Linked DNA regions of Homo sapiens: region 1 is linked to region 2. The links come from fine-mapping of genetic effects on gene expression. A gene starts in region 2. The other region holds a variant in brackets. All regions are shown on one strand. Distances are between the middles of the regions. Region 1 overlaps GPLD1 (glycosylphosphatidylinositol specific phospholipase D1). Region 2 holds the start of MRS2 (magnesium transporter MRS2).

The links. PIP is the estimated chance that this variant, and not a neighbour inherited with it, causes the effect. A credible set is the group of variants that fine-mapping cannot tell apart.
Region 1: its variant is the best candidate, but not a certain one, in a credible set for the expression of MRS2 in testis (GTEx, PIP 0.64).

What each region holds. Positions count from the first base shown.
Region 1 is chr6:24,432,521-24,437,767 of GRCh38, reverse strand. It overlaps GPLD1 (glycosylphosphatidylinositol specific phospholipase D1), which reads left to right. Exons shown (of 25, transcript NM_001503.4): 21 at 479-655; 22 at 1,032-1,192; 23 at 4,379-4,405; 24 at 4,531-4,581. Among named protein-coding and RNA genes, the nearest start is that of MRS2, 32 kb to the right of the region's middle. The variant G/A (reference allele first, on the strand shown) is at 2,632.
Region 2 is chr6:24,400,097-24,405,355 of GRCh38, reverse strand. It overlaps MRS2 (magnesium transporter MRS2), which reads right to left and starts at 2,420. Exons shown (of 11, transcript NM_020662.4): 1 at 2,120-2,420; 2 at 115-188. The coding sequence starts at 2,309. RefSeq lists enhancers at 1,049-1,783, 3,992-4,727, 4,728-5,259 and silencers at 3,541-3,835, 4,721-5,015.

The DNA.
Region 1 (5,247 bases), 32 kb before region 2:
ATCATGTCCAAAGGCCCAAATTTAAGACATAGATTGGGCTGTGGTTTAAGTTCATTTTGGTGAAGTGTGGGTGAAAAGGTTAATGGCGCTAGATCCCCAAGTGGGAGTCAGATTCTGTAAGGCCTTGTGAAGAGTTTGGACTCCATCCAGAGTCCACTTGCGTTTGGATGTGTCAGTCATGGGGGTGACCTAGTTTGTGATACGAGAAAATAAAAAGGTGGCTGTGTGGAGACTGTATTATGGGGATAAGACTGGAAAAAAGAATACCTGCCTGGAGGGAAATCACTGAAGCTCTCTGGTGTTTGTGCCTTGGTGCCCAAGCTGGTTGTACCTCCCTGACTGCCGGAGATGACCAGCTCCGAAACCGACTGTCCTGTAGGATCCCGAGTGATCAGTGTCACTTGAGGATGGGGTGCTATTCCGTGTTCTGTAATGCCTTCCTTTCTGTGAGGCCAGCAGGAACTGTGGTTCGTTTCAGATGACGTGTCTAAGGTGGCATTCCTGACCGTGACCCTACACCAAGGCGGAGCCACTCGCATGTACGCACTCACATCTGACGCGCAGCCTCTGCTGCTCAGCACCTTCAGCGGAGACCGCCGCTTCTCCCGATTTGGTGGCGTTCTGCACTTGAGTGACCTGGATGATGATGGCTTAGGTAAGAAAGGAACAGGACCCTTTGACAAGAATTGAGTCCCTTTGCCCAGGGGGTGGGTCCCCTAATTGGGTCATCTGGGCTCTGCCCTTATAATTGACAGCCCAGTGGCCCAAGGACCTTTAGACAGATCTTGAATGAGGCAAGACCAGAGAGGGAGTTGCACTTCTTGAAGCTGGTAATATGAGAATCACCTGTAGTAATTGCTATTGATGAATGAAGTAGGAAACAAAAGCCTTTGCCAGGATGAAATCACAGCCGACTAAAGGAGATACTAATATTATTTGTAAGAGGTTGGGTTAGGATCCAGTAGCGGAACAAGGAAAAGATGACAGTGAGGAGTCAAATACTTCCTTCTGTCGGTTTTTATTGTTTTCAGATGAAATCATCATGGCAGCCCCCCTGAGGATAGCAGATGTAACCTCTGGACTGATTGGGGGAGAAGACGGCCGAGTATATGTATATAATGGCAAAGAGACCACCCTTGGTGACATGACTGGCAAATGCAAATCATGGATAACTCCATGTCCAGAAGAAAAGGTAAGTGTTCTACAAAATTCTATAACTTATTGGGAAAGGATCACTAATTGCTGATTCCTTGTTAACTCATGTCCACTATAAAGTGCTTACCTGAATTCATACCTCCTAGGGTCAGGACACCATCATCTGTCCATGTTTTGTGGGCCCCAGCTGCCTGCAGTTCTTACAGTTCTGCAACATTTGTGCCCAGAGCTAAAGTCCCACTGGACTTGGTGTTATGTAGGTCCCTGGTCACACAGCCTGCCACTGCTTGGTTAGGCACCCACAGCACAGAAGAAAGAAAACAGGCCATGGCCATTGGAGTTTCTCTTTTTAAAATAGAGACGGGTTCCTGTTCCATTGCCCAGGCTGGAGTGCAGTGGTGTGATCATGGCCCACTGCAGCCTCAAACTCCTGGGCTCAGGTGATTCTCTTGTCTCAGCCTCCCGAGTAGCTAGGACTACAGGCATGTGCCACCACACCCGGCTAATCTTTTTATTATTTGTAGAGATGGGGCCTCACTATGTTGCCCAGGCTGGTATTGAACTCTTGGGCTCAAGCAGTTCTTCTACCTGGCCTCACAAAGTGCTGGGATTACAGGCATGAGCCACCATGCTCGGCCAGCCACTGGAGTTTCATTAAAACGTCCTCTCTTTTGCTTTTTGTTTCATTTCTTTGTTTATTCCTTTTTTGGGTGAGTTTCCTTAAGTTACATTTCCTGGGCCTAAAGCATTTGGCCATTATTTAACTTTTTTTTTTTTTTTTTTTTTTTGAGACAGCGTCTGGCTCTATTGCCCAGGCTGGAGTGCAGTGGCACGGTCTCGGCTCACTGCAACCTCCTCCTCCCAGGTTCAAGCCATTTTCCTGCTTCAGCCTCCCGAATAGCTGGGACTACAGGCATGCACCACCACGCCTGGCTAATTTTTTGTATTTTTAGTAGAGACAGGGTTTCACCATGTCGGCCAGGCTGGGATTACAGCCCAAAGTGCTGGGATAACAGGCATGAGCCACCGTACCCCACCTATTTTAAAAAATTTAAAATTATTTTTTAAATTGCAAAATTAGTGAAAGTTTATTATGGAAATTTTAGAAAATACAAAAATGTACAAAGAGAATTAAAAATTATCTACCTAAAATTCCACTCTGCAGAGCTAATACCTGCTTACCTTTAGAGCGGATCCTGCTAGTATTTTTCCTATGAATTTAATTACTACCATTTATTGTGCATTTAGTATGCATATGCTAAGAACTATGTATCATTTAATCCCCATAAAAGCTATGAAATTGGCCGGGCGCAGTGGCTCACGCCTGTAATCCCAGCACTTTGGGAGGCTGAGGCGGGCGGATCACAAGGTCAGAAGATCGAGACCATCCTGGCTAACACTGTGAAACCCTGTCCCTACTAAAGATACAAAAAATTAGCCGGGCTTGGTGGCGGGCGCCTGTAGTCCCAGCTACTC[G/A]GGAGGCTGAGGCAGGAGAATGGCGTGAACCCGGGAGGCGGAGCTTGCAGTGAGTCGAGATCATGCCACTGCACTCCAACCTGGGCAACAGCAAGACTCTGTCTCAAAAAAAAAAAAAAAGAAATTAATATTATGCCCATTTACAGATTAAAAAAATTAAAGATCTCAGCTGAGTGTGGTGGCTTATGCTTGTAATCCCAGCACTTTGGGAGGCTGAGGCAGGAGGATCCCTTGAGCTCAGGAGTTCAGCACCAGCTTGGGCAACATAGGGAGACCCTGTCTTTTTTTTTTTTTTTTTTGAGACGGAGTCTCGCTCTGTCGCCCAGGCTGGAGTGCAGTGGCGTGATCTCGGCTCACTGCAACCTCCACCTCCCAGGTTCATGCCATTCTCCTGCCTCAGCCTCCCAAGTAGCTGGGGCTACAGGCGCCCACTACCACGCCTGGCTAATTTTTTTGTATTTTTAGTAGAAACGGGGTTTCACCGTGTTAGCCACGATGGTCTTGATCTCCTGACCTCGTGATCCGCCCAAGACCCTGTCTTAAAATAAAAAAATTAAAGATCAGCGAGGAAGTTTATTCAAGGTTACACTGCCAGGAAGGCAGGGCACAACAGAGATTTGAACCAAGATCTGATTCTAAAGCCTACCCTTAAGTATTACACTATGTGCGTGCATATTTTGGTTAACAATTGTGATCCTATTGTGCATAATTTGTGCATAATTTTGTAACTTTTTTTTTTTTAATGGAGTCTCACTCTGTCATCCAGGCTGGAGTGCAGTGGCATGATCTCGGCTCAGTAAAACCTCCACCTCCCAGGTTCAAGCGATTCTCCTGCCTCAGCTTCCTGAGTAGCTGGGACTACAGGCGCACACCACCGTGCCTGGCTAATTTTTGTGTTTTTAGTAGAGACGGGGTTTCACCACGTTGGCCAAGCTGGTCTCGAACTCCTGACCTCCAGTGATCCGCCTGCCTCAGCCTCCCAAAGTGCTGGGATTATAGGTGTGAGCCACTGTGCCTGGCCGTAACTTGATTTTTCTTTCTACCTAACAATATACCGAGAACATTTTCTTATGTTATCTGATATTCTTATATAATATGATATTTACCGGCTGATGAGTATTTTATCTACAGACAAACCATAGTTTATTTACCCATTATTCAGGCAACCATTGTTAGTCAATTGTGCCATTTCCAATTTTCATTGTTTTAAATAATATGGTAAATAGTCACATAAATGTTTTTATACATCTGGTTATTTTTCTGACCTGTATTTCTATAAGTAGAATTTCTGGGGTCAAAGGGCATGCACATTTGTAAGGCTAATCAAGAAATGTAGAAATGAGGCTGGGCGTGGTGGCTCATGCCTGTAATCCCAGCACTTTGGGAGGCTGAGGTGGGTGGATCACCTGAGGTGAGGAGTTCGAGACCGGCCTGGCCAACGTGGTGAAACCGCCTCTCTACTAAAAATACAAAAAAATTAACCGGGCGTGGTGGTGGGCGCCTGTAATTCCATCAACTCACGAGGCTGAAGCGGGAGACTTGCTTGAACCTGGGAGGCAGAGGTTGCAGTGAGCTGAGATCACGCCACTGCACTCCAGCCTGGGCGACAGAGCAAGACTCCTTCTCAAAAAAAAAAAAAAAAAAAAAAAAAAGTAGAAATGAGGGTATAAGGGTATAATTAAAATTGATTTTAAAAAGCCACACAAACAGTAATAACATTGTCTCTCTCCTCAATTTTTTTCTTCAGGCCCAATATGTATTGATTTCTCCTGAAGTAAGTATCCCTTGAAAGACTGAAGAAAGAAAAATTACCAAAACAATGCCCCTTGGTTTATTTTAAACGGATAAAGTATTACACTATGTTCTTCAAAGCCCATTAACAGACGGCATGTTTTACAGGCCAGCTCAAGGTTTGGGAGCTCCCTCATCACCGTGAGGTCCAAGGCAAAGGTGAGCCCAAGGACTGAACTTCATTGATGTTTATGTTAGTACTACGGGTGGGATTTGGTGGTCTCACTTGTTAGGTTTATTTCAGATTTTATTTTTATTTGAAAAGGAGAGGAACACACAGAAAGTAACATTCACATATAATCTCATCACTTCCTTGGTGGAAAGTTTCCCTTTTTACTCTTCCTATTTTATCCTCTACAGCAGGGGTTGGGGCCAAGTCGTCTGCCACCTAATTTTGTAAAGCCATGAACTAAAAAAGTCAGCTCATGTTGAGATGGTTGAAAAGAAATCAAAACAGAATGTTTTGTAACATATGAAGTTTAAACGGCAGTGCAGTTTCAGCGCCCACACAGCTGTAGTGGAACATAGCCGGGCTCGTCTGCTGTGGACTGCGCGTGGCTGCTGTCGTGCTGCCGTGGCAGAACTGACTGGTTGCTTTGGAGACTGATGCCCCACAAAGCCTAAGTATTATTATCTGCCTGTTCTCCAAAATTGTTTGCTGGCCCTTGCCTTAGAAAATAACCATTATTAGTATTTTGCTATTTTCTTCCAGACTTTCAGAGTTTTTTCTTTCTTTATTATTTTTTATACAGAACCTTGCTCTGTCGCCCATGCTGGAGTGCAGTGGTGCAAATTTGGCTCACCGCAACCTCCACCTCCCAGGTT
Region 2 (5,259 bases):
GCTATGATGATTATAAAGCTCAAAATAAGTAGTATCTTGGCCAACAGTCCAACGAGTTAACTTATGTATGGGAAGCACTTTCTGTACGATTTCCAATGTACTGTACATACTCACCACAGTAAATACTGGGGCTACACTGGCTAAAGTGGCTTGAGAGACGTCAGAGGTTCTAAACCGGTGCACTTCACCTGAAGAATAAATTAAGAGAATTCCTGTGGTCACATGATTGGTTTTCACATAGAGCTAAAATACAACTCTCAAAGTATGTGGAGGCCTTCAGACTATTTTATTATTTTTAAATATTTTTCCTATAAGAAAAGAAGAAATACTCTTCTTAATTTTAACATCTGTTAGTGACTATCTTAGGTTTGGCAGGGAATGATTTTTAAAACTAATGGCTTAGGTGAGGCATTAAAATAACTGATGGATTCCAATCACCCTTTTACCTTTCTAATTATTACTGATATCTCAGAGTTGGATGAACAAATGTGCAACATCGTGTTCTGAGATTTAAGAAAATGTCTGGTCTTCCTTTTCGCATAATTTAAAAGACTCTTCATGCACATTTGGTAGTAGATACATTTTAGAAAACATAGGTCCTAAGTACCACCTGATCTTTCAAGCATTCCAGTTGACTGGCTCATAAATTATGAAACCTATGATTTTACTTCTTTTCTACAGATATCCTTTATAGTGAATACTTATGAAATACCCCCACTGAGCTGAAATGACAAATCTTTATTTTAAAATTGTCTATTTAAAACGTGATTAGACTGAGTCGAAGTGAGCGGTGAAGTATAATCAAGTACATTTAATGACTGACAGAGGACACTGTTTTGTGCTTCCAAAGTAATTACACTGATTCCAGAGACTGTAGAAAAAAAAACCTATTTCTGATCTTTTTTCTACTACATACACGTAATGATTGTTGTAATTTGTTAGTATCTGAAGTTTCATTTCCCTTTTACAAAATACAAATTATCACTATAAGGGTAAGATGAATAAAGGTAAAAGGCATTTGCTGATTACAAATGCCTTTCAATGTTTTAATGTCACAAATTAGAGTGTAACCGGGATTGAGATTGTGAACGTCAATGCTTGTCCTAAAAGTTTCCTCCAACTTGCTGAAACTGGATTCCCAAGCATTATCAATTGAGGGTGCAGAGCATGTAACCCAACTTAGCCTCTCCAATAAGTGGAGAATGAGGTGCTGACGAGGAGTTACTTTGGGAGGCTTTTGAGAGCACAATTGAGAAAACATATTTGAGGACACTGCTATGTTCTTAATAAAGTCATTCATTTCAATACCTTTTATTCCTCAAATATTTGCACTCACATTTGTGAAAATCTTAACTTTTCACCATGCTTCAACATTTGGTGAAAAAATAAACAGCAAATAAGATTTTTTTTTCTCAATCCGATCTCCCTGGCTGTTTACTTATAGAGTACTGTAGTTGAAAGTAAGTCGTTCTCAGAAACAACTCAGTCTTTAGCCTCACTTCTAGGTGCGTCCCCAATCTCCGTGCAACTGGACAACTGTATAAATGTGTCCATAACGAAGAAACAGAAAACAGGGAAGTATTAATTTATACTTATGACTTCCGAACAGATGAAATCCTTGTTTAAAAACACCTCTCGGCCAGGTGTGGTGGCTCACGCCTGTAATCCCAGCGCTTTGCGAGGCTAATGCGTTAGGATGGCTCGAGGCAAGGAGTTTGAGTCCAGCCTGGGCAACATAGTAAGACCCTGTCTCAAAAACAACACAGAAAAAACCTCTTACAAGAGCACTTAAGCGGGTGTTAACTAACGTGATCACGGTCTGTAAACGATTCCTAGGTTGTTCCTATGGTTACATAATCTGCAGCAAGGGCGGTGGAGGAGAAGGCAGAGGGTTGGCCGCTGGGACCCCGGCAGGGCACAGCGCACATAGCAAGGTCGCATTCTGAGCGAGTGGGACGCAGCTCGGCCCGCGGGCCTGTGCAAGCTCACAGGACACGCGGGAGGCCGAGGCCTGCGGAGGGCGCGGAGCAACAGGCGCGCCGCGCCGGACGGCTGGGGCAGCAGTCTAAGGTCACTGCAAGACCAGCGTCCCAAGGCTGTTGCCGGGGAAGGGCAGTACCTGCCACGCGGAGCCGGTCGGGCCCGCAAAGCTGCGCCGCTCGGCTCCTTCCAATCAGGTTGGCTCGGCGGCCGCAGGCAGCAACGGGAGGACCCACAGAGGTCACGTCCAAGGCCAGGGCACACAGCGTCCGCCGGGGAAGTCTCATCGCGCGGGGCAGGAGGCAGGGTAAACTGCGCAGGCATTCCATGGTGCTGGAGCAAGAAGCAGGCAGCAGCCAGACCCCAGACCTTCATGCCGGACGCTGGCTGCTCAGGCCGCAGCTCTGACCTGTCGCTACCGCCCGACCTGCAGACTCTGTGCACCAGGCATGCGCGGGGCGTGCCGCGCCTGCGTGCTACTTCCCCACGCATGCTCGGAAGGTACCTGTGGGCGAGCCTGTTAAGTCCACAGCCAATAGACGTTTGCTTGCCTACCTGTACCTGCACCTGTACCTAAGTGAGGGGGCAGGCGGGCTGGGAGATGGGTGGAGCACGTTTACCTGCACTAAGTGAGCTGTCCAACCTAGGTTCTTGGGCGCTTGGAGTGTCATGGTTTTGTAGTTTGTGGAGAATTTTCATACCTATGAAAATTGCAGTTTGGAAATGAGCAGGTTACCCATTCCCACATCATTTAATTTATATTTAAATTTAACGTGGTGTAGGGAGCAAGAGGGAAAGCTCCTACTTTTGCCCTCTGAAAGTTGCTGGAATGAACTAAGTAGACAGATTAGCAGGAGAAAAAGGCATACAAAATTTGCTTAACGTGCATAGGGAAAAATCACAGAAGAGTGATTACTCAATAACTCAATTAAGGTCCAGATGCTTGTATACCCTTCTTTGTTGAGTAGAGGGAGATAGGTATGAATGGGCCCGAAAGCCAGACAGTGGTTTGCAAATGATTCTCCTTGGACATTCAGTGGGACAGAAGTACAAACAATCGCTTGTGGACAAGCTGTGAAACTTCACTCTGAACAAAAATTGTCCTATTATACAGGTAAAGTTTCCCAGGTAATCTCTTGGAGCTACCCTCAGAAGTATCTATGAAAAGTCTCAGTGTGGCTATGACTTTCAGTTTTTGTCTCTTCTCTGGGTGATTAATCTCTTCTGATTATTTAATGCGATTCCTAAGGAACGGGTTTTAAGACAATTGCATTTCTTTGGAAAAGAGTTTTCTCTGTCAGATAAGGAAATTCCTTATCTGGCTGTGCAGGAAAAGAGAGCCCCTTCAGGTGCTTGGAAAAAGTAAGAGTATCAGAGAGACAAAAGGAAGGGGGAAGGTGAGAGAGAGAGGCCTTGATTTTTAGGCTTCTTTCTGAGACCCTTTTAATTTCCTTTAATTCAAAGACTCAACATGCCACCGGGCGTGGTGCCTCATGCCTGTAATCCAGCACTTTGGGAGCCAAGCACTTTGGGAGGCCAATGTTGTGGACCACTTGAGGTTAGGAGTTCAGGACCAGCCTGGCCAACATGGCAAAACCCGTCTCTACTAAAAATACAAAAATTAGCCGGGTGTGGTTGCAGGTGCCTGTAATCCCAGCTACTTGTAAGGCTGAGGCATAAGAATTGCTGGAATCCAGGAGGTGGAGGTTGCAGCGAGCCCAGATCATGCCATTGCATTCCAGCCTGTACTGCATTCCAGCCTGTACGACAGAGTGAGACTCCCATCTCAAAACAAACAAACCCCAAAGACTCAGCATGCCAAAACATCATATTTTGGGGTATTATGGTTTGAGCCCCAGTAGTGGCAAAAATAATCAACTGTCATATGGAATGATGTCATGTATTAAACTTTTGCTATAAAGAATGAGGAGCACAGACACATAAGATTTCTATTCCATATTTAATAAAATGTAAGATAGCATCAATTTTAAGGTACCATTATTTTATGTACCACCAAGAAAGAAAAAAAAACTGATAAGTTATGCTTTCTAAACATGTAGATTGAAAGACATATCTCAATTCCAGTCTTTAAAATATGAAAAAAGTCTTAGGTTAAATACAGTATGTATGCATATTTTAAAAATATGAGTTAATAAATTTATTGTCCCTTCCACAGTAGTAATACAAGGCAGACACAAGTTCCACAGACTTCCTTTCAATATCTATGTATGGACACAAAGCTAAGGAGACAGAGATAGAAACATTTTATTCTGCAGGGTACTGGGACTGGGGATGGAGTAGGAGGGCAGTGCACAAAGAGAAGCCTTCACAGAAGAGAGGATGTTTGACTTGATAATGTGGGGAAAAGAAAGAGAGATCAGATTGTTACTGTGTCTGTGTAGAAAGAAGTAGACATAAGAGACTCCATTTTGTTCTGTACTAAGAACAATTCTTCTGCCTTGAGATGCTGTTAATCTGTAACCCTACCCCCAACCCTGTGCTCCCTGAAACATGTGCTATGTCACCTCAGAGTTAAATGATTAAGGGCTGTGCAGGATGTGCTTTGTTAAACAAATGCTCGAAGGCAGCATGCTTGTTAAGAGTCATCACCACTCCCTAATCTCAAGTACCCAGAGACACAAAACACTGCAGAAGGTCGCAGGGACCTCTGCCTGGGAAAGCCAGGTATTGTCCAAGGTTTCTCCCCATGTGATAGTCTGAAATATGGCCTCGTGGGAGGGGAAAGACCTGACCGTCCCCCAGCCCGACACCCGTAAAGGGTCTGTGCTGAGGAGGATTAGTGAAAGAGGAAGGAACGCCTCTTTGCATTTGAGATAAGAGTAAGGCATCTGTCTCCTGCTTGTCCCTGGGCAATGGAATGTCTCAGTGTAAAGCCCGATTGTATATTCCATCTACTGAGATAGGGGAAAACCGCCGTAGGGCTGGAGGTGGGACATGCTGGCAGCAATACTGCTCTTTAAGGCATTGAGATGTTTATGTATATGCACATCAAAAGCACAGCACTTTTTTCTTTACCTTGTTTATGATGCAGAGACATTTGTTCACGTGTTTACCTGCTGACCTTCTCTCCACTATCATCCTATTGTCCTGCCACATCCCCCTCTCCAGGAAACACCTGATAATGATCAATAAATACTAGGGGAACTCAGAGGCCGGTGCCGGCGCGGGTCCTCTGTATGCTGAGCGCCAGTCCCCCGGGCCCATTTTTCTTTCTCTATACTTTGTCTGTGTGTCTCTTTCTTTTCCAAGTCTCTCATT